Linked DNA regions of Homo sapiens: region 1 is linked to region 2. Evidence: fine-mapped expression QTL. A gene starts in region 2. The other region holds a variant in brackets. All regions are shown on one strand. Distances are between the middles of the regions.

What was found. PIP is the estimated chance that this variant, and not a neighbour inherited with it, causes the effect.
Region 1: its variant is fine-mapped to the expression of COL4A2 in monocytes after LPS (Quach 2016, PIP 0.95).

What each region holds. Positions count from the first base shown.
Region 1 is chr13:110,498,683-110,509,713 of GRCh38, reverse strand. It overlaps COL4A2 (collagen type IV alpha 2 chain), which reads right to left. Exons shown (of 48, transcript NM_001846.4): 41 at 7,930-8,046; 42 at 6,432-6,593; 43 at 6,233-6,331; 44 at 5,721-5,867; 45 at 5,450-5,566; 46 at 3,108-3,299; 47 at 1,493-1,779. It overlaps COL4A2-AS1 (COL4A2 antisense RNA 1), which reads left to right and starts at 1,535. Exons shown (of 3, transcript NR_046583.1): 1 at 1,535-1,615; 2 at 1,963-2,067; 3 at 6,786-7,138. RefSeq lists enhancers at 1,113-1,612, 1,613-2,114, 5,937-6,866, 10,269-10,768. The variant T/G (reference allele first, on the strand shown) is at 6,050.
Region 2 is chr13:110,302,809-110,313,839 of GRCh38, reverse strand. It overlaps COL4A2 (collagen type IV alpha 2 chain), which reads right to left and starts at 6,556. Exons shown (of 48, transcript NM_001846.4): 1 at 6,312-6,556; 2 at 5,893-5,980; 3 at 5,717-5,771. The coding sequence starts at 5,936. COL4A1 (collagen type IV alpha 1 chain) reads left to right here and starts at 6,683. Exons shown (of 52, transcript NM_001845.6): 1 at 6,683-6,896. The coding sequence starts at 6,813. RefSeq lists enhancers at 5,261-6,093, 6,094-6,927.

The DNA of each region.
Region 1 (11,031 bases), 200 kb before region 2:
CTCGTGACAGTCATTTGAAACCTGATGCTAATGGAACAGGGGATGCCTGACCTTTCTGGATACTGTGTAATCATGCCCTTCACAAGGGAGAGGCTCATTTATTTTGAATTTAACAACGGGAGTGAAAAAAACAGGAGCAACCAAAGCTTACTTCCTGACACAGGGGCACCCTGAAGGTCACTGTGAAACAAAAGAAGGTTGCTCCAAAGTCACCTTCCATGATAAGCTTCTGGAAAGGTAGAAATTGTGCCTGTCCCTGCCCAGGATTTAGCATCCTGTTGCTCCAACTTATCATAGCAACGATACCTATTAAAATGCCAATACTTGTTTATCTTTTCCTTCCTTTCCTAGAATCCGGATTTTTTTTCCTGTTGTTTTGAAAGATTAGCAATCACTATGTAATTTATATTTTATGTTGTGTGTGTGTGTGTGTGTGTGTGTGTATATATATATATATATATATATATAATTTATGAAATATTTAACATGCTGGGCATCCAATCCATATAGCTGGAGTTATGACAGTTATAATGCATATAAATAAACTCACTGGAAGACCCACTGTCCTCAGTGAGACTTTCTTTTCTCCCTACAATAGTATACAGATGGTCCCTGATTTACCATGGTTAGACTTAGGATTTTTGAGTTTTCGATGGTGCAAAAGCAATATGTATTCAATTCACTATTTGATTTTTGGTGGGGTTACATCCAGATAAACCCATCATAAATTGAAAACGCACTTTCAACTTATAGTATCTTCATCTTACAATGAATTTATCGGGACGGGACCCTATTCCAAGTTGAGGAGCCTCTGCTTTAATAGGCAATATTGCAAGAGACACTATGGTGCTGTGGTCTCTCCCCTGGAGGTTAAGCTAAACCTAATCTGGCCAAAGCTGAGGGTTCTCTATTTTATACCCAAAGGCGATCCGGAAGGGTGGGCGGTGCCTTCCCAGGTCCTGGTTGTGCACCTTCTCCTGGCTTTCAAAGTATCCACAGGCTCTCTATTTTATACCCAAAGGTATTCCAGAATTTTCCTCACGAATATATATCCATTTTAAGCCAGCCAGTTAATAGGTATTTCTTCAGGGTATTCTAGGTTCCAGATAGATTCTAAATAAGATCAGGATTCTAGAGAAAAGTCTCCCATATATTTAGACTTCTGGTAAACCCAAAGCAGCTGCACCTTTGGTGTTGGTGTTGTACCTAGTAAGACGGATAACAGGCAAGTTCGTCCTGGTTACACTCCTTACAAAGGCCTGGTGGCAAATTAATGAGCCCTTTCTGGGTGGAGGAAGCCCTGTGCCCAGCATGTGGCTCAGTTAGCCAAGTGTAAGCTGTGTTCCAGCTCTCGCTCGCTTCCTGGGCCAACTACCCTTGTGCAGTGCACACCCTGGACTGCCGTGTCTGATTCTTCTCACAAAGGCAGCTGTTCTTGCTGTGTCCCCAGCAGGGTGTGGTTGGGGAGGGGAACTGGGCAAATACCACATACCATGAGGAAGGAATATCCGATCCACAAACTCCGCCACCCAGCTGGGCAGTGTGGGATGGAGACATCCTGACTGTGGACCGCGATGGCGATGGCCGGGGCCTCACACACAGAACAGCGGCTGATGTAGGGCTTGATCTCGTCCTCGGCCACGGGCATCATGGGCAGCGGCGCAGTGGTAGAGAGCCAGTAGGACTTGTCGTTCCGGCTGGCATAGTAGCAGACATCACCAGGGTTGCAGTACAGGAAGGGCATGGTGCTGAACCGCGCCAGGCAGGAGCCCGCCAGCCCTGTGGAAGGAGGGGTCATGAGATCACAGTGCAGTGTGGCTAGAAGACGCACCTGCCAGCCCCAGCCAGGCCCAGGAGGCTGTGTGTCACGGACTCGCCCCAGGGCACCTGGTGGAGTTTAGCCACCTACTGGAGGGCCAGGCTAAGGCTTCCCAATTTCTTTCTTTTTCTCTTTTTGATCAGACTCCACTGGCATTTTGGAACAGCTCTGTTCTTCTACAAGTTCTCACACATACTGGGCCAAGTTGGATCACCAGGGAGTGGCGTCTTCATGGAATAGCATTTTGGGTGAGCCTTACCTTAGTGGGGTCTTAACAGCACTGGCCCCAAGAAAACTCTGATGGCCTCCAAGGGGTCGCTCTTTGACCCCAAGGAGCCACCCCAGAAGGAGTCCTGGCCCTTCTCCCTTCCATGTAGCTTTATTGCTTCTGGAGACTAAGATAGCCTTTATCTCCTGGCCACAACGAATGCTGCAGCTAAGCAGGTTTCCCTCTTCACATGGATTGCTGAAAAGCTCAGACCCAGAAGTGCAGCCACCTTTAGCAAACATGCCCGGTGCTAGGCTGCCTCCTTGGCCCTGTTCCTAGATCTATTTTTGGCCCTTATCCTTGGCGGCCTTTGCCCCGTTGTTCTTTAGAAACTCATTGTGGAGGCGGGGCGCACAGGCAGGAATGTGAAGGCACCATGAGCCAGCAACATGCTTCCCGGGGGCAGAACGCCTGATGTAACCTGCACCGAGGAGGCAGAACACAGCCAGTATCCCAGAGACCCTTCCCGTCACCCCCTCAAAGAGGACCTCAGACTAAGCTACCTCCACTTGTAATTTGTGTGTATTGCATTTTCTGTATTCGAAGTCGCGTTAATGCCTTTCAAAGGCTTCCTTAAATAAGAGCATGCACACGTGTCCATGGGTCCATTTTCCTCGGGGGGCTGTATGGGAGAGTCTTACATGAACCCCAGCCCCTCATGGCCCCTGCCTGACTCCAAGTCTACAGAACTTGGGTCAAAAACAAGAAGGAGGTGAAGTAATTGGTGGTCTCCACTGGAGAGGGGTCGGGGGTCAGACGGGTCACATGGGAGCCTGCGGAAGTCAATACCAGGTTAAAAGGCAGGTCCCTGTGTTAAGGTCCTGAGGTTTAAGGGCTTTGTAAGGCTTCTGCTTCAAAGGCCGTTTTAATCTTTCTGCACTCGAGGAATGTAGATGGACCCTTCCGTCAGGGGAACTTACCAGCCGTGGAGGGTTTGGGAGTCTCGCTGTGGCCCTTTGATCTTGGCCACTTCCGGGCCAGCCCTGAGCAGGCAACGGGGGCCGGGTGGGAGGTACCTACCCAGGTCCTGGTTGTGCGCCTTCTCCTGGCCCTCGAAGTACAGCAGGCTGTATCCACTCCAGAGTTTGTTCATGCCCACTGGGCACATGGGCTCCTGGTCCGTCTGGCTGTGCTTCACCAGGAGGTAGCCGATGCTGACGCTGCGGCCTGGCATACCCGGCAGGCCCGGGCTCCCTGGACGGCCTGGTGCACCTGCAGCCCGAGAAAGAGAGAGAGTGGACGGCCTGGTGCACCTGCAGCCCGAGAAAGAGAGAGAGTGGACGGCCTGGTGCACCTACAGCCTGAGAGAGAGAGAGAGAGTGGACGGCCTGGTGCACCTGCAGCCCGAGAGAGAGAGAGAGAGAGAGAGTGGACGGCCTGGTGTACCTGCAGCCCGAGAGAGAGAGTGAGTGGACGGCCTGGTGCACCTGCAGCCTGAGAGAGAGAGAGAGTGGACGGCCTAGTGCACCTGCAGCCTGAGAAAGAGAGAGAGAGCAGCCCCCTTGACAGCCGCCCCACAGAAACCTCGGGACCCAGGAGTGCAGGGCAGTTTCCAGGTGCGCCTAGAACCATCGCTCTCCTTCCCCAGATCTTGGGGCTCAGTCTGTTGAGATCAGGAGACTCTTGGGAAGGATTTGATCCACACTTTGTTCTCAGTAGCATGAAATGATGGCAGTGAGGGCACTGGGCACAGAGGAGGGGTCCTTTCCATAAAAGACTCAGTCAGCCATAGGTAGGCATGTGCCCCTCAGGATGTGCCCAACGTGCCTGGCGTTGGAAGTGTCCGGAGGAGTATCGCAGGCCAGCCCCCACCCCCAGCAGTGGCCTCCCTCCGCTGGACACTTCCAGGAGACATGGCTCATCGCAGGCCATGCTGACTGCGCACTTGACCACAGCCTGGGTTAGAATGTTCTTTCTGCGTGCAGCCTCCTGTAACTCCTACCCGAGGAGCACACGGGGGTGGCTCATCTGCCTCCAGCACAGCAGCTCTGTGAATATTTCTCAGCTATCCCCAGTGACCCTTTCTCCCATTGTCCCCTCCCCTTCCAAGGGACACCCATGGTCATGGCCCTTTCTCCCAGGACACTTCCCCTCCACCATCCCTAGCTTGTCTCCTACCCTGGGCGGGCTCCCATTTGCTGGCATTTGTTTTCAGGTGCACCCCACACTACCCATAATTTGCCGGCTGCGGATCTGTCCCCAGGGGCAGGGGACTGCTATTTCCTTTGACTTGGACACCAATAGTACTACCCATGTTTAATTTTCTTTTTTTTTTTTGAGACGGAGTCTCGCTCTGTCCCCCAGGCTGGAGTGCAGTGGCGCGATCTTGGCTCATTGCAACCTCCACCTCCTGGGTTGAGGCCATTCTCCTGCCTCAGCCTCCCGAGTAGCTGGGACTACTGGCGCCCGCCACCACGCCCGGCTAATTTTTTGTATTTTTAGTAGAGACGGGGTTTCACCGTGTTAGCCAGGATGGTCTCGATCTCCTGCCCTTGTGATCCGCCCACCTCAGCCTCCCAAAGTGCTGGGATTACAGGCGTGAGCCACCGCGCCCGGCCCCTATGTTTAATTTTAATTTTAATTTTAATGCTCAGACCATTGGCTCAAACTGAGCTCAGGTTGATTAAGACAAATTTTGAGGTTTTTTTTTTTCATGAATAGCTGTTATTCCTGGCCTATTTCATTCTGTATATGTGCAAATAATTTTAAAAAATAAGACGACCAGGCACGGTGACTTACACCTGTAATCCCAGCACTTTGGGAGGCCAAGGCTGGCGGATCGCTCGAGGTCAGGAGTTCGAGACCAGCCTGGCCAACATGGTGAAACCCCGTCTCTACTACAAATACAAAAAAGTTAGCTGGGTATGGGGGCACATGCCTGTAGTCCCAACTACTTGGGAGGCTAAGACAGGAGAATCGCTTGAACCCGGGAGGCAGAAGCTGCAGTGAGCTGAGATTGCGCCACTGCACTCCAGCCTGGGTGAGACAGAGCGAGACTCTGTCCAAAAAAGAAAAAAAAGTAAGACAGGGCTTCGCAGTGCGGCTCTTGTACATTTTAATAGTCGGTTTCTTTTGGCTCCTTGTCTAATCCTGACCCTTGAAGTCTACTGATCCCTGCCGCCCACTCCACAGCACCGCAGGTGTCCCAGGAAAAGGAGGGAGGCTGTCCCAGGACTCGGGGCCAGGTGTTCTGCTGGGCATAGGAGTGTAGCTGCTACGCCCAGATTAGGAGCAGGAGGGTGGGGCAGCGCCTCATTTCTGGCTTTTCTGGGCTCTCGTGTGTCCCCTTCCTGCAGACCACAGTCTGTGAGTCAGATCCAGAGCACTAGGACCTGGGAAGGTCCTTCCCCACTGTCACTCACCTTCTTGGCCAATCGGCCCCTGGTGGCCTATGGGTCCTTCATCTCCCCGGAAGCCGGGAACAGCAGACACACCACCTCTTCCTTGGGGCCCAGCTTTCCCTGGAGCCCCACGGAAACCTGCAAGCCACCAAAGAAGCGTTATGGCTGGAAACTGACCACGCCTGGCACGGCCGGCGATCCACAAAGAGAACACAAGAGGACGCAATGCCAGCAGGCCCTGGCCTTGCCCGGGCAGCCCCGAGGGGCTCCAGGCCCCAGCTCAGCACTCTACCTGGTTCTCCGGGGGGGCCCTGGGGCCCCATCTCCCCCGGTGCCCCAGGGGGGCCTCGCCTCCCCTGGGGACCCACTGTCCCTGGTTGGACGGCAATCTTCTGGGGGATTCCTGCAATCCCGGGGGCTCCCACAGTCCCGGGGGCACCTGGAAGGGAAACAGAGAGGCCCCAGTAAACACACAAGGTCGTTCCACTCTCTTGCTCCGAGTGCTACTGCGTTTCTCACCAGGGAGGCTTCTTTTGGAGCTTCCCAGACAACTGTGCTTTCTAGAGATGAGCCAGACACTAACGGGCCTGAGCCGTGACTCAGCGCCTGCCGTTTGAATAT[T/G]AAGCTCTCCATTCCCCAAGGTCCTGTGACAACATCCGAGGCACAGCCTTGGTTTCCTCCCTGCTCTTTACAACATGTGACCCATGCCAGAGAGGATCCTGGCCGTTTGACCTCCAGGATGTCCCCAAGCCTGGAGAGGCTGGGCTGAGCCACTAGCTCTGAAGATACCAGACGGTCACTTACCAGGGAATCCTGGGTCTCCCTTGGGTCCCTTGGGGCCTCTGTCGCCCACCGCCCCAGTGGGTCCAGTGTTCCCCATGAAGCCTTGTTCACCCCTGGGCCCTGCAACACAAACAAGACGTTAGGGACACGAAAGTCTGTGGGGAGGGGGCTCCTCTCACTGTGGCCAGGGCTGCTGGCCCATGGCCATGGGCACTGTTACCTTTTTCTCCTGGGAGACCAAACACACCAGGCCTGCCCTGGGGCCCGGAGTCCCCGGCCCATCCTTTGGTCCCTGGGGTTCCTGGAGCTCCTGGGTTCCCTGTGTCACCTTTGCTTCCAGGAAGAGCAGCAGAACCTGGTGGCCCTGGTGGGCCCCGATAACCTGTTGGCATTAGGGACAAGAAAGGAGGGTTTAAACAGGGCCCCAAGGCCCCTGGGGGCAGTCAGGTGCACCGTCACCCATTCAGGCGACAGTCTCTGGCAAGTCTGTGGCATGGAATGACTTTGTCTATGTTTTTAAAAAATTGTCGTAAAATACGTAGAACATAAAAGTTACCATTTTAATCATTTTTAGGTGCACTGCTCAGTGGCATTCAATATATTCACCTTCACCGCCGACCAGCTCCAGAACTTTCTCATCCTAAACTGAAATCTGTCCCCGTTATACACGCACTCCCCGTGTCCCTCTCCCCCCAACCCTCAGCAACAGCCATTGTACTTTCTGTTTCTATGAATTTGATGACTTCAGGGGCCTCGTATGTGTGGAATCACAGAATCCGACCTTTTGTGACTGGCTTCTTTCACTCAGCAGAATGCCCTCAAGGGTCATCTAGGTGGTAGCAGGTGATAAGAGTTCCTTCTTTTTAAGACCGAATAAAGGCTGGGCAAGGTGGCTTACACCTGTCGTCTCAGCACTTTGGGAAGCCGAGGTGGGAGGATTGCTTGAGGTCAAGAGTTTGAGACCAGCCTGGCCAACATGGTGAAACCCTGTCTCTACTAAAAATACAAAAATCATCTGGGCTTGGTGGTGGACACCTGTAATCCCAGCTACTCAGGAGGCTGAGGCACAAAAATTCCTTGAACCCGGGAGGCGGAGATTGCAGCGAGCTAAGATCGTGCCACTGCACTCCAGCCTGGGCGACAGAGCAAGGCTGTCTCAAAAAACAAAAAACAAGAAAACAACCCAACAAAAAAGACGGACTCCTCTTGTACTGGGTGGATACTGACTGCATTTTGCTTCTTAATTCCTCTGTTGATGGACACTCGGGTTGCTTTCAGCACTCGGTGCTTGTGAGTAGTGCTGCTGTGAACCTTGACGCACAAACACTTGTTTGACGGGTGACTTCATCTTTACGCCATCTCTTTCCAATATTCAGCTCGTTCGTGATTAGGAAGTGCAAATTAAATTTAATACTTGTCTAAACACAATACAGTGAGGAAGAAGAAAGCCGTTCATACTGCACATTTCTGAGCCCCCTGCAGTTTGAATATCTGCTATTACAGCAAGTAAATGACATGGCCTGTGTCTCAGCTTCCCAGGGACCAGGTCGTGCAGGTGATGGAAATGACACAGGAGGAGCCATCATGGCTCCTGCCTCTTTGACCGGAGTCTGGGCACAGCGTGGAAATGAACGTCTGTTCTCCCCCTACATTAAGCGGGCCATTGCCAGCTCCTGCCCCTAGAGATGTCGAAGCACAGATGTATAAGTCCTGCTTACCTTTCAGGCCAAATATCCCTGGCGCCCCTTTGTCACCAGGTGCCCCAGAGATGTTGGAAGGGGGTGTGATACCAGGGAACCCCTGAAGTCCTGGGCTCCCAGGTGGGCCTCGTTCCCCTTAGGATGAAAACAGAAGAAATTATTTTCAGCGTTAGCACCCAACTTTTCAAATCTACTATTTTCCCTCCACACCATCACCTGTGGTGGACCAGAGCCTAGCGAGCGAGACAGTGATGGGAGGTGCCCTCAGGCCAAGGAACATCTCATGGTGGGGCTGGGGAGGCCCTCAGGGCGGGGTTGGGGGGGCAGGGGCTATGTGAACCCCTCCCCCACCCCAGCCTTTCTCCTGTGAGGAGCCCTCCACTGGGATCCTGTCTGCCTGTGCTCGACTTCCCCAAGGCGCTGCCCGATCATGCTTAGATGGAGCCTCAGCACCAGGCGAGGCACAGCTGGTCAGACTCTGATCCTGATATGTGTGGACAGTGGTCAGCACAGGTGATGGACAGAAGGTTGAAAAATTGCAAATGAGGCTTACAATTGACATCACTATTGTCAACCCTCCCTGCGGCTGTCCTCCAGTGCCTCGGATCCCAGCTTGGATAGAGTTGGTCTTCATTATTCACAGATTCTGTGTTTCCCAATTTGTCCACTCACTAAAACTCACTTGGAATCCCCCCCAAATCAACACTGGCATTCACAGATATACACAGAGGCAAAATGAGTCCCAGCTGAGATCCAGCAAGGTGACGCTCCTGCCTTCTTGCTGCAGCTCATACTGTACACACGTGTCCTTGTCTTGGTCTCTGTAGTGCCCTGTTTTCCACATTTTTGTGCTTTATGCTGGTGATTTTGCTGTTTCAAATGCCCCCCATGTATTGTGTTGAAGTGCATCCTACTGTTGGTAAGTGCAAGAAGGCTGTGAAGTCCCTTATGGAGAAACACATATGTAAGAGAAGCTGCATTCAGGCACGAGTGAGTGCATGTTGACTGTTCCTGAATCAGCAATCCACACTAAACAAGGTGCCGTTACACAGAAAACCAGCTTATATACTGATCATTGACAAACATCTTGTGAGCAGAGGCTTGCAGGAACTTAGCCTTGTATTTCCCCTAGGAGCAATGGTTCAGTATTCACTAAGTCAGTGTTCTTGGTGACTTCAGAACATAACTACTGCGAATAATGAGAACCAACAGTTTTTGGGTCAAAGGCTGGAGCTCTTTGGCACTAGTAGGAGAGTAAGAGGGAAATGGCCACATAAGGAAATCTGTGGAAATTCCACTCCTCCCTGTGCTGTCAGCCAACAAGACACTAATGGAGCTTTATGTGCTGTAGGGCAGTGGTGGGTAGAAATCAGTGTGGACTTGAGTGGGCGGATTAAGTCTACTTTCTCTCCTAAGCACCTTCAGCCTTTTGTTTTACCTCGGGCTGGGGACCAAGATTAGTATTAGAACCCTGCAAAATGTCAGAATGTCCAAGTGGGCAAGGAGGGCATCACTTCTGCTCTGCAGGAAATAGTGAGCTGGGCGAAACAGTGCAAATCTATAAAAATGAGAAAAGGTAGCAACAGTGGTTTTCTGTTTCCCCTCTGGCTTTATGACTAATCTACACGCATCAGCAGCAGGAAGAGATTTTCCCTTTGGAAGATCCTGGTATCCATTATCCATCCCAGGGGAAAGGATTCCATTCATGCGTGCTTCCAAGTAGGACAAAACAAACAGCAGGATAAATATTTAGAGAGGTGAGGCTTGTCTCACAAATCACAGACAACATGCAAGTGGGTTCATTAGCCCTGAGGGCATGAGTGAGCCACCATCTGTAGTTTGATATAAAATGACACCAATTGAACTGCTTCTAGCTATTGTCACAAAGTACCCGAAACAGATGGTGAGTGTCAGTAAATAATGGCAGACTCCTGAGTTAGATGATCCAGTGCAATCCGCAGACTGGCAGATTCCCACGAAAACATAATTAACTTAACTGCAGTGATGAGGACTGTTAATGAGAACACTTAGCAAACATGAGTCAGTTTGCTGGAATCTAGACGGAAACCGCTATGATTTCTCAGTAGCCCCCATGGATCGTCCTAAGTACTGACATAAAAGAGTCTCACTAACAGGGGTTCCGTGAAGGCCCATGTTGCATGACTCAAGGCCAAATCAGGAACTGATGCTCGAATGTCAGCTGCAGAAATAGGTGAGGTTGCAGACTCTAGCTTCAGTGAGCTGTGATACGGTTTGGCTGTGTCCCCACCCAAATCTCGACTTGTAGTTCCCAAAGTCCCTACATGTCGTAGGAGGGACCTGGTGGGAAGTAATTGAATCACGGGGGTGGCTATCCTCATGCTGTTCTCGTGATAGTGAGTTCCCAGGAGATCTGATAGTTTTATAAGGGGCCTCCCCCCACCCTTTACTCAGCACTTCTCTCTCCTGCCGCCAGTGAAGAAGGATGTGTTTGCTTCCCCTTCCGCCATGATTGTAAGTTTCCTGAGGCCTCCCCAGCCATGCAGAACTGTGAATCAATTAAACCTCTTTCCTTTATAAATTACCCAGTCTCTGGTATTTCTTCATAGCAGCATGAGAACGAACTAATACAAATGAGATGCAACTCATGCGAAGGAAGATGACGGATTCAAATTATTCCCATATTTTGAGAGAAGAGTGTGTGTCCTGAATGACATTATGATCAGTGTGTGAACGTCATCATGGAAGGTCGTCTTTCCCTCATCACTAGCCAGAGGCAGTGGCCTCATATGCCAAGGCCCAATGGCACTGGGCAGTGTCTGCCCTGGCCTCCAGGACCTGCTCTGAAGTCATCAGCTCATGGGCCCACTGTGACGTTCATGCAGGTCGAGGGTGGGGGCATGGCTTGCAAAAGTCAGCATGCCGCACGGTGGCTTGGAAGCCGGGGACACCGTCCAGGTCCCTGGGATGGAATGCAAGGAGGGCCACAGGAGGTCACGGAGAGTTTTGATAAATGGGTCCCACACAGATCAAATGTGTAATAAGGCCATCAATGTTACCTTAGGGGTGTTCTGAGCTACACGTAACTCTCCACTGATGTCAGAAAATTATCCTACAATTTCACAATATTCTTCTCCAGCA
Region 2 (11,031 bases):
GGTGGGAGCCTGCCGGGTGGACACGGGGCACTGGGGTGGGAGCCTGCCGGGTGGACGCGGGGCACCGGGGTGGGAGCCTGCCGGGTGGACACGGGGCACTGGGGTGGGAGCCTGCTGGGTGGACGCGGGGCACCGGGGTGGGAGCCTGCCGGGTGGACACGGGGCACTGGGGTGGGAGCCTGCCGGGTGGACGCGGGGCACCGGGGTGGGAGCCTGCCGGGTGGACACGGGGCACTGGGGTGGGAGCCTGCCGGGTGGACACGGGGCACTGGGGTGGGAGCCTGCCGGGTGGACGCGGGGCACCGGGGTGGGAGCCTGCCGGGTGGACGCGGGGCACCGGGGTGGGAGCCTGCCGGGTGGACGCGGGGCACCGGGGTGGGAGCCTGCCGGGTGGACGCCGGCTGCTCGCACGTCCTTTGAAATTCACTCTCTGGCCACATCAACAGGACTGGAGACACCTGTGAAGTCTCCCTAGAATTAGATGCCGCCTTCTCCTTTCAGGGGTAACCAAAATAAAAATTACCGTCCTCCGGAGCCACCAATGAAATCAAGAGCAGTGAGTCACTTAGGCCGTCACCTGTCCTGACAGGGTCTCATTAACTGAAGGGAGTGGGCACCAGAGGGAAACAGCAAGAGGGGACTATCCAGGAACTCTGCCCTTTTCCTCATCTCAACTGAGAAATGTCACATATTTACTGGATTCCAGAAGCTTCTCGACACCGTGAAGATAAAAAGTCCCATGTGGCATATTGATTTCTAAGCGATATCCTGGTGCAGGCTGGATAGATTCTATTCTGGAGCTTATCTGGAAGGGCTTTCTCATCCCCAGCATCACAGCGGAGACCCCGGCTCACCCTCACAGGTCTTAGCACACCTGCACAGGCCAGCCCTCACTGCTGACCTCTAACTTACTCATGGTATGTTGATCACCTGAGAGATCCATTCCACACAACATTCTCTTCCAGGCTCCAGAGCCAAAGCACGTAAAGTGTCTTGCCCTGAAGTCAGAACCCGGTTAGCAACAGGCTGGATTAGACTTTATGGCCTCTCAAGACTATTGTGTCATTCCTGGTCCCTGATTCACAAGCTCTATCAGCCAAGGCTGGGGGTTGCAGACATTGCCTCCTACCTTCAGCAGTGATCACACAGTAGACACCAGCAGACACAAAGCATGAGGCCAGTTTCAGAGCTTTCTCTAAAACCCTCTAATCAAAGACAAACATTCTTCTTCAGATAAAAAGAATGAGACATTCTCAAACCACTTTCTAGATGGTGATCTCTTCATTATATTATCAACACAGGGTTGAAAAGTTAAATCTCCATGGCACTCAGTTTTTCCCTTGAGTTTCTCTATTATTTAAACTACACATCCATTTTCTTTCCCTCTCCCCAGAAACACAATTAAACACAGTTCTTTGATTTTTATTATTTTAGCAAAATCTTTTTTCTATTCTAGAACCTTTTCCTCTTCACCTCTCTCTCTCTGGTTGTAAACATAGCCGCCTGGTCGTACAGAGCCTGTTTCCTCTCCTGCGCTTTTCGGTTTACCCTTCCTACCCACCTCTCCTTCTGGGATGCTGCTGACAAATCTCTGCTATTATTTATCGTGGCCAAGTCCTACAAGCCACCCATGGAGGAAGACTTTAACAGCCTCCAGAGAGCTGAGATATGCTTGTTTATCCACGAGCAGAGGAGGAACCCCGTGCTTTTCCCTTCTTCTCAGAGGGCCATGTTTTGAGCAATAGCGCTTCAGCTCCAGGAAATGCAGGAAAGAATTGTCCTTCCCGATCCTTACAGAAAGCTCTGGGCCTCGTGCGGCATGAACACCTCTCCTCCCTGTACCAAAGCCTGCGGAAAGGACTTGCCACCGCAGCTGCCGGCCTGGAGGGCAGGGAAGGCGGTGGCAGCCAACAGGAAGGTCAGGCGAATTTCCTGGGGCTGGAGCCCCGAGGACAGCCTGGAAACTAAGCGGCAGGGTGGCAGGCAGGGGCCCCGCACTGATGCCTACGTGAACCCACGTCTATTGTGGCCCCAGGTCCCGGCCAGAGGTCCTCAGGTGACCACCCAGCCGGCTGCATATTTGATCCCTCAGGCTGCTGCCAGCCTCTGGAGATAGGTGACAATGCTCAGAGCGGCTACAGTGAGTGCTTTCAAGCCTCCATGAAGGTTAGAATAGGCAGCCGAGGGGAAGTCCCTTAAACAGGCCCAGGGGATACCTCCTGGCACCCAGGCTGTGCCAGACCCTCCAAGGCGCTTCACATGCACCCACACACCTCACAGCACCCCCATCTATGAGGTGGGTGGGATGAGTAACACCTCCGTTTTGGGGGAGAGGAGAACTAGGACGCAGAGGCTTGGCGAATGTCCGCCCCAGGCGGCAGCCCCTCAGCTGCCCACCAGACTGAGAACTGCACCCCGTCACCTGCCTCAAGTCTGGGATGGGACCCCTGTGTCACACTGCCTTACACGAAGCCATTTTGTGCATCTTGGCACCACATTCAAACAAGGGCACCTTTAGAAAGGGCACCTTGGACAGCAGGGAGTGTGTCCTGAGGTGCCCACACAGATCACCTGGGTTCACACTGAGTCTAGAGCCCAGGCTGCCCCGTGGGATTTCGGCTTCCTTTCCTCCCTTTGGGAAGGGTCTTGCTTCTCTCCTTCACTTGCTGCCCCTGATCCTCACAGTGGGAGAAGCAGAGGAGGAAGGAGGGGGAGAGCCTCCTTCCTAGGAATCAGTGCCCGCTCCACTGTTAGTCCACGGTCAAGACCAAGAAGAAAGCACCCACACCCCAGGAGACTCAAAGACTGAAACTCAGGAGTGCCCTCCCGGCCACCTTTCAGGCCCTGGGAAGCTCGGTGTGGAGGAAGAGGCCTGGGTTCTAATCCGTCTCATTCAGTTACAAAGACAGGAACCTTGGGCGAGGGCTGCAAACCCTTTGTGGCTTTTCTCACCTGTAAAATGGGGGTAATAATAGTTACCTAGCTCATCAGTGTGCTTGCTTGTGAGGATTAGAAGCATTAGTACAGACAAATTGGCACACAGGAAGTGCCCAATAAGTAATCACCAAGGCTCTTCACTGCCCATCCTAGCTGCTTCCGAAACAAAACAAGCCAAAGGGCTCCCAGCGGCAGCCCTTTTTCCTGAACTGACCTACGCAGGAAAGAGTCCTTGCCACAATTAAGAAAAATCTTTAATCAATACAGTTGAAAATTGAAACATTATTTCACAAGGAACAGCCATTAAAGCCAGTGGTTACCAAGAAGTGAGTAAGTAGAAGACCAGCCCCTTGTTGAACGTAACAAACTACATGTCTCTTAACAACACATATTACTAGGTCCCTAGTAAAATGATTAAAAATATCTATTTTTTTTGGTTGAGTTAGAATCTAAAGCCCAGGAAAATAAAGTGAATTGGCAAGTAATCTCAACTGCCTCTCAACCCAATACTGTAGCTCAGTGGTTCCCAGATTCTGGTATCATGTGGGGAGGCGGAGTCCCGGACTCCACCCTGGAATGTCTGACCTGAAGGTCTGAGATGGGGCCTGACTTCTTAACAAGCCTTTCAGGGTTTAGGTCTGGGGGTCTAGGGGGCCTGCACTTTGAGAAGCTCTGCTGGGCAATCAATGTTCTTGGTGCCATCCAAAGATCAAAGAGTCAAAGAGACTGGGGGTGAGCTTGCAGCAATGATGAGGTTTTGGGGAGGCATAGAGGTGTCCTATCTGCCTTAGGGCACTTGGCCTCTGTGAAGCCGTAATTCTTCAGAGTACGGAAACTGGGGCTCTGGATTTAAGAGATTAGGGCAGAGCTATGTTTAGTAACTAGGTTTTTTTTGTTTGTTTGTTTTGTTTTTAGACAGAGTCTTGCTCCGTCGCCCAGACTGGAGAGCAGTGGTGCTATTTCGGCTTACTGCAACCTCGGCCTCCTGGGTTCAAGCAATTCTTGTGCCTCAGCCTCCTGAGTAGCTGGAATTACAGGCAAGCGCCACCAAGCCCGGCTGATTTTTTTGTATTTTAGTAGAGACAGGGTTTTACCGTGTTTCTCCCAGGGTGGTCTCGAACTCCTGAGCTCAGGCAATCCACAGGCCGCGGCCTCCCAAAGTGCTAAGATTACAGGCGTGAGCCGCCATGCCCAGGCTAATACCTAGATCTTTAGACCTAGGTGCTTGGTGGTCTTTCTACCAATTTTAGGATGAGTTCAGAAAAGAATACCTGGGACTCCCACCATCCTTAGGCATGAACATATGGAAATTATAAAAGTGGCTCTAAGGGACAAAGGGGTGCAGGTGGCAGCACAACCAAAGCACACACAGCCCGATGTGGTATTTTCTAGGGATCGCCCCCTTCTTTGAGTGTGCGTGCGTGCGCGTGCATGCATTGCTTCTGGTTCATAAATCTGAGCCAAGTCTTACATGCAGTACAGACCTGTGCATTAGAATTCACAGGGTCACTGGGCTAGTTCAAATATCTAGGTTCTGATCTTAAGTCGGGGCTGGGACGAAGAGACAGACCTGAACTGGAAGAAAACTTTGGCCTGGAGTGCTCTGGTCAAAGTCTCCGAGTCCTCCTCTTACTTCCCAAACCGAGCTTTGAACCGGAACCAACAGCAGCGGAAAAGTAAAGTTAGCAGCTCTTCCCCAAGTGGGAGTAGCTCCTCATCACTCACTGCCTTTAAAATCCTGGTTTGTTTTACATCAGGGCAGAACGATGTAAAAACAACAGAATTCAAATGAAATCATGAACACGTTTGCCCTTTGTACCTGTGTACTGCTCTGGCACAGTGCGCGCTGAGGAGGGAGGGGTCGTTCCCAGGAGGAATCCACCTGGGCCCCGGCTGCCACAGGGCAGGGCTACTCCATCGGCCACAGTAAGGAGAGGAGGGACAGCGGACATCTCGAAAGCTCCCTCCGCTTTCAGCTCCTGTCTAAACATTTGAGTCCTGCACCGAATTCACCTACCAAACCTCTTCATTTTAGCCATGGTTACATAAAGCTCAGTAAAAGTGGCTCCTACTCTTTAAACAAAACGTATAAAATGGACAAAGCCTCGCAGTGCAGTCGCCAGCTGCACCCACGGTATCGGCAGGGCTGTGCACGGCCGGCGTGGAGGGGCAGGCTCGGCGAACAGGATCCCAGTGTGGCGCCCGGAGCAGCTCTTCCAGGGCCGGAACAGGACTTGGGAGAAAACGCGGTTTTTCTGCCATTGTTCCCTCGCAATGCTTCAATTCAAACAATACTAAGGTTGTCTCGTTCGCCTCCTCGCCCCGCCCCTTTACCCAGAGACTCCCATTTAAAAACACAAAAAACCCTCAGTCCGTGACAGAGACTCCCCACCAGCTCCCGAGTTCCAGGAAAACTTTTTTCGCCCTAAGCCTGGCGTCTCACTGCCTAGTGACTGACACACTTTCCTGGCCTCTACGGCTGCAGCTTTGCCCAAAGCAACGAAAACGGTGCCTCAGGCTACATTTTAAGTTCCCAGTTCCCGTGAAAGGCCGACGCTTGCAAAACACAGGATTGACGCTGGGAACCCAAGGGGAAGGAAAGGTGGAAAGCATGATGAGGGAAGAGCAAGCTTTCTCAGAACCTTGGTGGGCAGCCTGGCGAACATCCACACGCACACACACACTCGGGAGCGCACGGACGAGCTGCCTTCTCCAAGGCCACTCAAACGTCCCAACCACTCTCGGGCGCGCAAGTCCAAGCGCGGGAGCCAGGACTTACCGCCAAGACGCTCTGGGCGAGGAACCCCACGGTCACTGTCCCCAGCAGCAGCCACCTGCATGGGAAAGGGAGGAAGAGAGACGTGAACGTGCGGGCCCGGCTTGTCAGTCCCCGAGAGTTACACCGAAGGGTCCATGCGCGCGTGACCCACGGGGACCAGGCAGAAAGTCGCTTACCGCCGTAGGGCAGGGCCGGCCACCGCGCGCTGGTCTCTCCCCATGCTGGCGGTTCGTCCACTCTGGGCCCCGGTCAGTCCCACTTAGCCTAGAGGCGACAGACAAAGCGAGTTTAGCGCAGGATGAGGGAGGCAGCCCATCCTCACCGCCGGTCTCGGTCCGCGAGACGCGGGGACAGCGCGGTGCGCGGCCCGCATGCAGGGGTGACCGGAGGGCCGTCCCCCCCACGACCCGGAAAGAAGGAGAGCCTCCCGTTAGGCCCCTGTGGGTGCTCCTTGGCCGAGGAGCTCGGTCTTCGCTCTCCCACCCTCCCCCTTTCTACTCCCAAGCAGGAGAGCGTGCAGCCCTAGCCTGCACAAGGCGCTCCAAGTCGGTGCTCTCGGGCCAGGGTCTGGGCGCCGCTCGGGGGTCGCTCTCACCTCGGGCTCGGCTTCAGGGGCTGCTGCCCGAACGCATTGGCCCTTCCAGAAGCACCCGCCGGCGGCACACCGGCAGGGCGGCCGGCCTTGCTGGGCTCTCTGGGCGCCGGCCCCGGGGGCTCGGGCGGCCCCTTTCGGTCCTCGGCCTGGATCCGCGAACGCGCGGGCGCGAGGGGTTGGGACGCGGGAGCCTCTTGAGTGCGGAGCGCGGAGCCCTGGTGTCCCGGCGCACTGCAGCCACACTCCCGGGCCGCGCGCTCCCGCCGCCTCTTACCCGCGCCGCAGGGTCCTCCCCTTTGAGGCGCCGCCCGCGCACCGCCGGGGGGGAGGGGGCAGCGCCAACAAATTGGGGAGCTCGGCCCGCCGCGCTCAGGTCTCCGCTTGGAGCCGCCGCACCCGGGACGGTGCGTAGCGCTGGAAGTCCGGCCTTCCGAGAGCTAGCTGTCCGCCGCGGCCCCCGCACGCCGGGCAGCCGTCCCTCGCCGCCTCGGGCGCGCCACCATGGGGCCCCGGCTCAGCGTCTGGCTGCTGCTGCTGCCCGCCGCCCTTCTGCTCCACGAGGAGCACAGCCGGGCCGCTGCGAAGGTGAGTTCCCGGCCAGCTCCGCTCCCGGCGTCCCGCCCCGAGCTTGGGCGCCCCGAGAGGCCCCTTTGTCCGCGCCTGGACCCGTCCGCCTGCCCCTCGGGGGTCGCGCGTGGCACGGCCAGGTGCATTCTCTGGGCCGGGGTTCGTTGGGGGTCCCTGTAGGCTACGATCGCGCATTGGTGGACCGAGCCTCCTTTGTTATGGTATGGGTACTGGAGAGTTAAGGAATTCCTCCGGGGAAGGGAGGAGAAACAGCCCGCGCTGTGGCGGGGTGAGGGTGCCTGGGAGCCGGCGGGATTTGAACCCGCGTCGCGGGTATGCTCGGCAGCTGGGCGCCTTCACCCGTCCCGGGTGCGCGAGGGAGTTGGGGGCTGGAGGGCCGGGAGCGCCCACCCCGCGCTGCTCAGAGACCCACACTGGGAGCTCCGAGCTCCTAGCCCCTGGGAGCAGCTTTGGGCGTATTTCTCCTTGTCTGGAGACCCTGGTGGCTGAGGCTGAAAAGCTCTGGGCCCTTTGCCTGGAAACAGCTGTATCTGAGCTTTCCCACGACTGCTGCCTAAGGCGCGCTCCAAGGCAGAAGTGGGGCTCTTCTGGACGCCCGGCTTGAAGAAGCCACCATCCTCAACTCGTTGCCTTCTATTAATATATATTTTAAAAAATTATAACCACATTCATATTTGAGCATGAAACCAAAGTGAAACTCCATGTCATTGTTCCATGCACAAATTGTTTTTCTAGTTTTCATTTCCTTTGGTTATGTGCTTGCCCAGAAAGGATCTGGGAGATCGGTTTGCAGGAGGTTTGCAGGAGTCGAGGCTTCCAGCCGTGGACAAGCCTGGACTGACTGTTGTTTCCTTTTTTCCTTCCCCTCCGAGAGAATAAAGACTTCAGCTGTTGCTCAGTGTCACAGCCATGCAGTCCCACAGGCCGGAAGGTGTGGCTTCTGAACAGATTTTGCAGTTTCTCCCTCAAATGCTTAAAAATGATTTTTGCTACTTACCAGATTTTCCATACTTATTCTTTTACTGTTCTTAATCTTGTTCTTTGTTTTCCTCTTTAAAAAAAAATTTTACTTCTCTCCTGGAAGAATGATACTCACTAAATCCACTTAACTGTATAGAAATTGTTAACTGTTACATGCCAGAGAGAACTGGTGATATACACACACGTCTCCTAATTGAGAGCTTATCTCCCTGGAGGCAGCTTCTCCACTGGGTATTGAAAGGACTAATGATTACATCAGCAATTAACTTCAGATTGTACCTCCCAGCCCAGTCTCCCCAAACTTCATAGCCAGTTATTTAAACACTCTTTGGTAATGATGACAAAATACTTTCCAAAGAACAGGCTTGAGAGCACTTTATTTTGGTCTAGAAATATTGACCAAAAGATTGAACGCTTCCAAGGTGAGATGGTGAAGCCTGATGATGGTAAGGTAAATCAGAGAAAGTTCTTCATTGGGAAATAGGAGCTGTTTGCATTTCGATTTTCTGATGGATAATGTTAGCAAAGCAAAGAAAGCTAACTGTAAGAGCTGGCTTTCCAAACATCCAGGACTGTAGAAAGAAAGAACCACTCAGTTACGCAAATCCTGTTCTCACCCGGGAAATCAAACGCATTAATGTTGAGTTGGAGATGATTTTACTTCCCTTTAATCATTTCCTAAAGCTCAATTACATTCCCGGCCACTGTCTTTGCAGTGTCCCTTGAGGTGCCATGGACTGTTTTTAAGAGATGCAGCCTGTGGGCACTTCTGATCACAGCTGACCTCACAGATATTATCATTACTCTGTATTTTCCCTGGCTTAATTAGAGAAAAGTGCTTAATGTGCAGATGATGTATGGGTATACAAGAAAATCACTTAAAAACTGAATCTGCCTAATTTTAAAATTTGTCTCACTTTTCATGCCATCAATAACATTTTGGCTTACCTCCTTCCAAAATCAGCTGTTAGATGTACCATAACACTGAAATAGCTTCAATACTGATCCAAGCAAAACATAATTTAAAAGCACATTTTGAATGATAAGATGCTGTGGATTTGATCAGATCCTCATTCAGAAGCCAGTGGAAGTGACTGTTGGCTTACCTCTCCTTTGCACTGTCTGAATCACACTTCACCTGCATTTGTACATCCAGACATCACCTGCTGTGTGCCAGGCATGAATTGCCCTTATTGTTTTTTCTTCATGAAAGGCTGTTTAATTTTGTATTTGCTGTATCTGCTATGGTCATATTGTTTACGTACTCATGGGTGGATTTTCTAAACCATTGATTTTATCCCACGCTGAACCTACCACTCTACTCCCCGCTCCTCCCTTCCTCCACTTTTCTTCAGCAAGAAAGGAGGAATAGCTTGCAGGCTCCAGACAAACACGTGCCAGCAGTGTTCTGATTGTGAGCACCCTCTACTCTTAGTCACTCAGTTGCACTGGGCGGAATGAACCCTTCCTGCAGCAGCTTTCACACTCCCCTCTAGCTGGTTCTGTGTGATGCTTCTTAACAGATTATTTCTCAGGATTAGAAACGTGAACTTTCCCCTCAGTGTGGTGATGCTTGTCCAGCAATACTGTCATCTCCTGACCATTAGTCACCACCTCTGGGACTGAATGACCTAGAGTTCAAACTAAGTGAGATTTCATTCCCATATAAGTATGGACCATGTTCTACTGGAAATGTAGTTTAGAAGAGAAGGCTGGTTTCTGAATCAGTCCCAACAAGAGCAGCATCGCCCAGGATCTCAGGAGTGATATTGGTGAAGCTATTCCTTATATCTGCAAGCTCTTTATATTAATAGATGGAATTGGACTAGGGTGAAGGGACATAACTTTAAGACCAACCAGAAGACACAATGTTCATGTACTCTGACTAGATTCACAGAATTATCAATGCTATATATTATTAATAGTCACGTGTACACAGGATGAGTGTGCTTTAGGCACCAGAGGACCTTACATTTTATACCTGCTTTTAAGCAGATGATTTGGGGGTACTCATCAAACTCTATACCTCAGTTTCCCTGGCAGGTCTGTCCCTTCCTCACACGGACCCGTTTGTGCCTTCCTTCATTCCACACACACATCGGGAACACCTCCTTCCTGCCATGACCTTGCCAGGTGCTGGCCATGCGGCAGGGACTCACCCCCACTCTCTGTCCTCAGGAAGGTCAGGTGAGAAATATTGGAAAAGAAACAGACGAATCCAAGTCAGGCTGGTAAATGTCACAATCAGGGGAATCGAAGGGCTATAGGAACACTGAATCCAGCTTTGGGGAACTCAGAGGAAACTTCTGGGAGGGGCTTCCGCCTCTGAAATATGAGGGAGAAATAGGAACTATACACCAGCATGTCATTTCCATGTGCACTGTGATGGTGTACTATACACAGAAGACATGGTCATTCTGCCTGTCTGCTCTCAAGTCTAAGGGTCTTTGCACTGAAAGATGACCTTCAAGTTTGCTCCTTTGAGATACCAAAATGTCATTGTTTCTGTGATTAACAATCTTGGTGGCTGAACTTTGCTCTCAGAGGGGTGGAAAGAATTGGAAGGGCAGGGTTTAGGAGACCAGTGTTAAAAAAGAGCTCCCAGCTCCAACTGAGGCCCCAGTATGTGGTCCTGTCCCTTTTCTCGGAGGTGGCAGGTAGGCAGGCAGGGGATGTTTGGAAAGTTGCGGCATGGATGACTGATTCTAGTCAGGAGTGCCTTTAGGAACTGACCCAGAAAACCTACCCTTACTTGGGCCAGGCCATGAGGGAATTCACAAAACCCTACATTATTCATTAACAAGGCTGTTGGCAAATTTCTGAGAACTGGCAAGGATGGTCATAACAAGTTCAGTTATTTAGTTAAGAGCTGGTAAAGATTTTGCAGACAAATGGAACCCACCAGTGATGATCTAAGACAAACCTTTGTAGACAGTGGAAGAACATCAAGAAGTGGCTAAATGACAACAGTGGTTTTGATGAATTCTATGATATTTGTTATAATAATTGTTCCCCAAATTGAAGAAGGATTAACCTCATTAAAATGTCTCACAAGGAGGTTTGGTATTTTGAGTTCTTGGGCTAGAGTCAGCTCAAGCAACAATAGAATGCCTAAAATAATGTTAGAGCATTGTTCTTCCTGCTATTATTA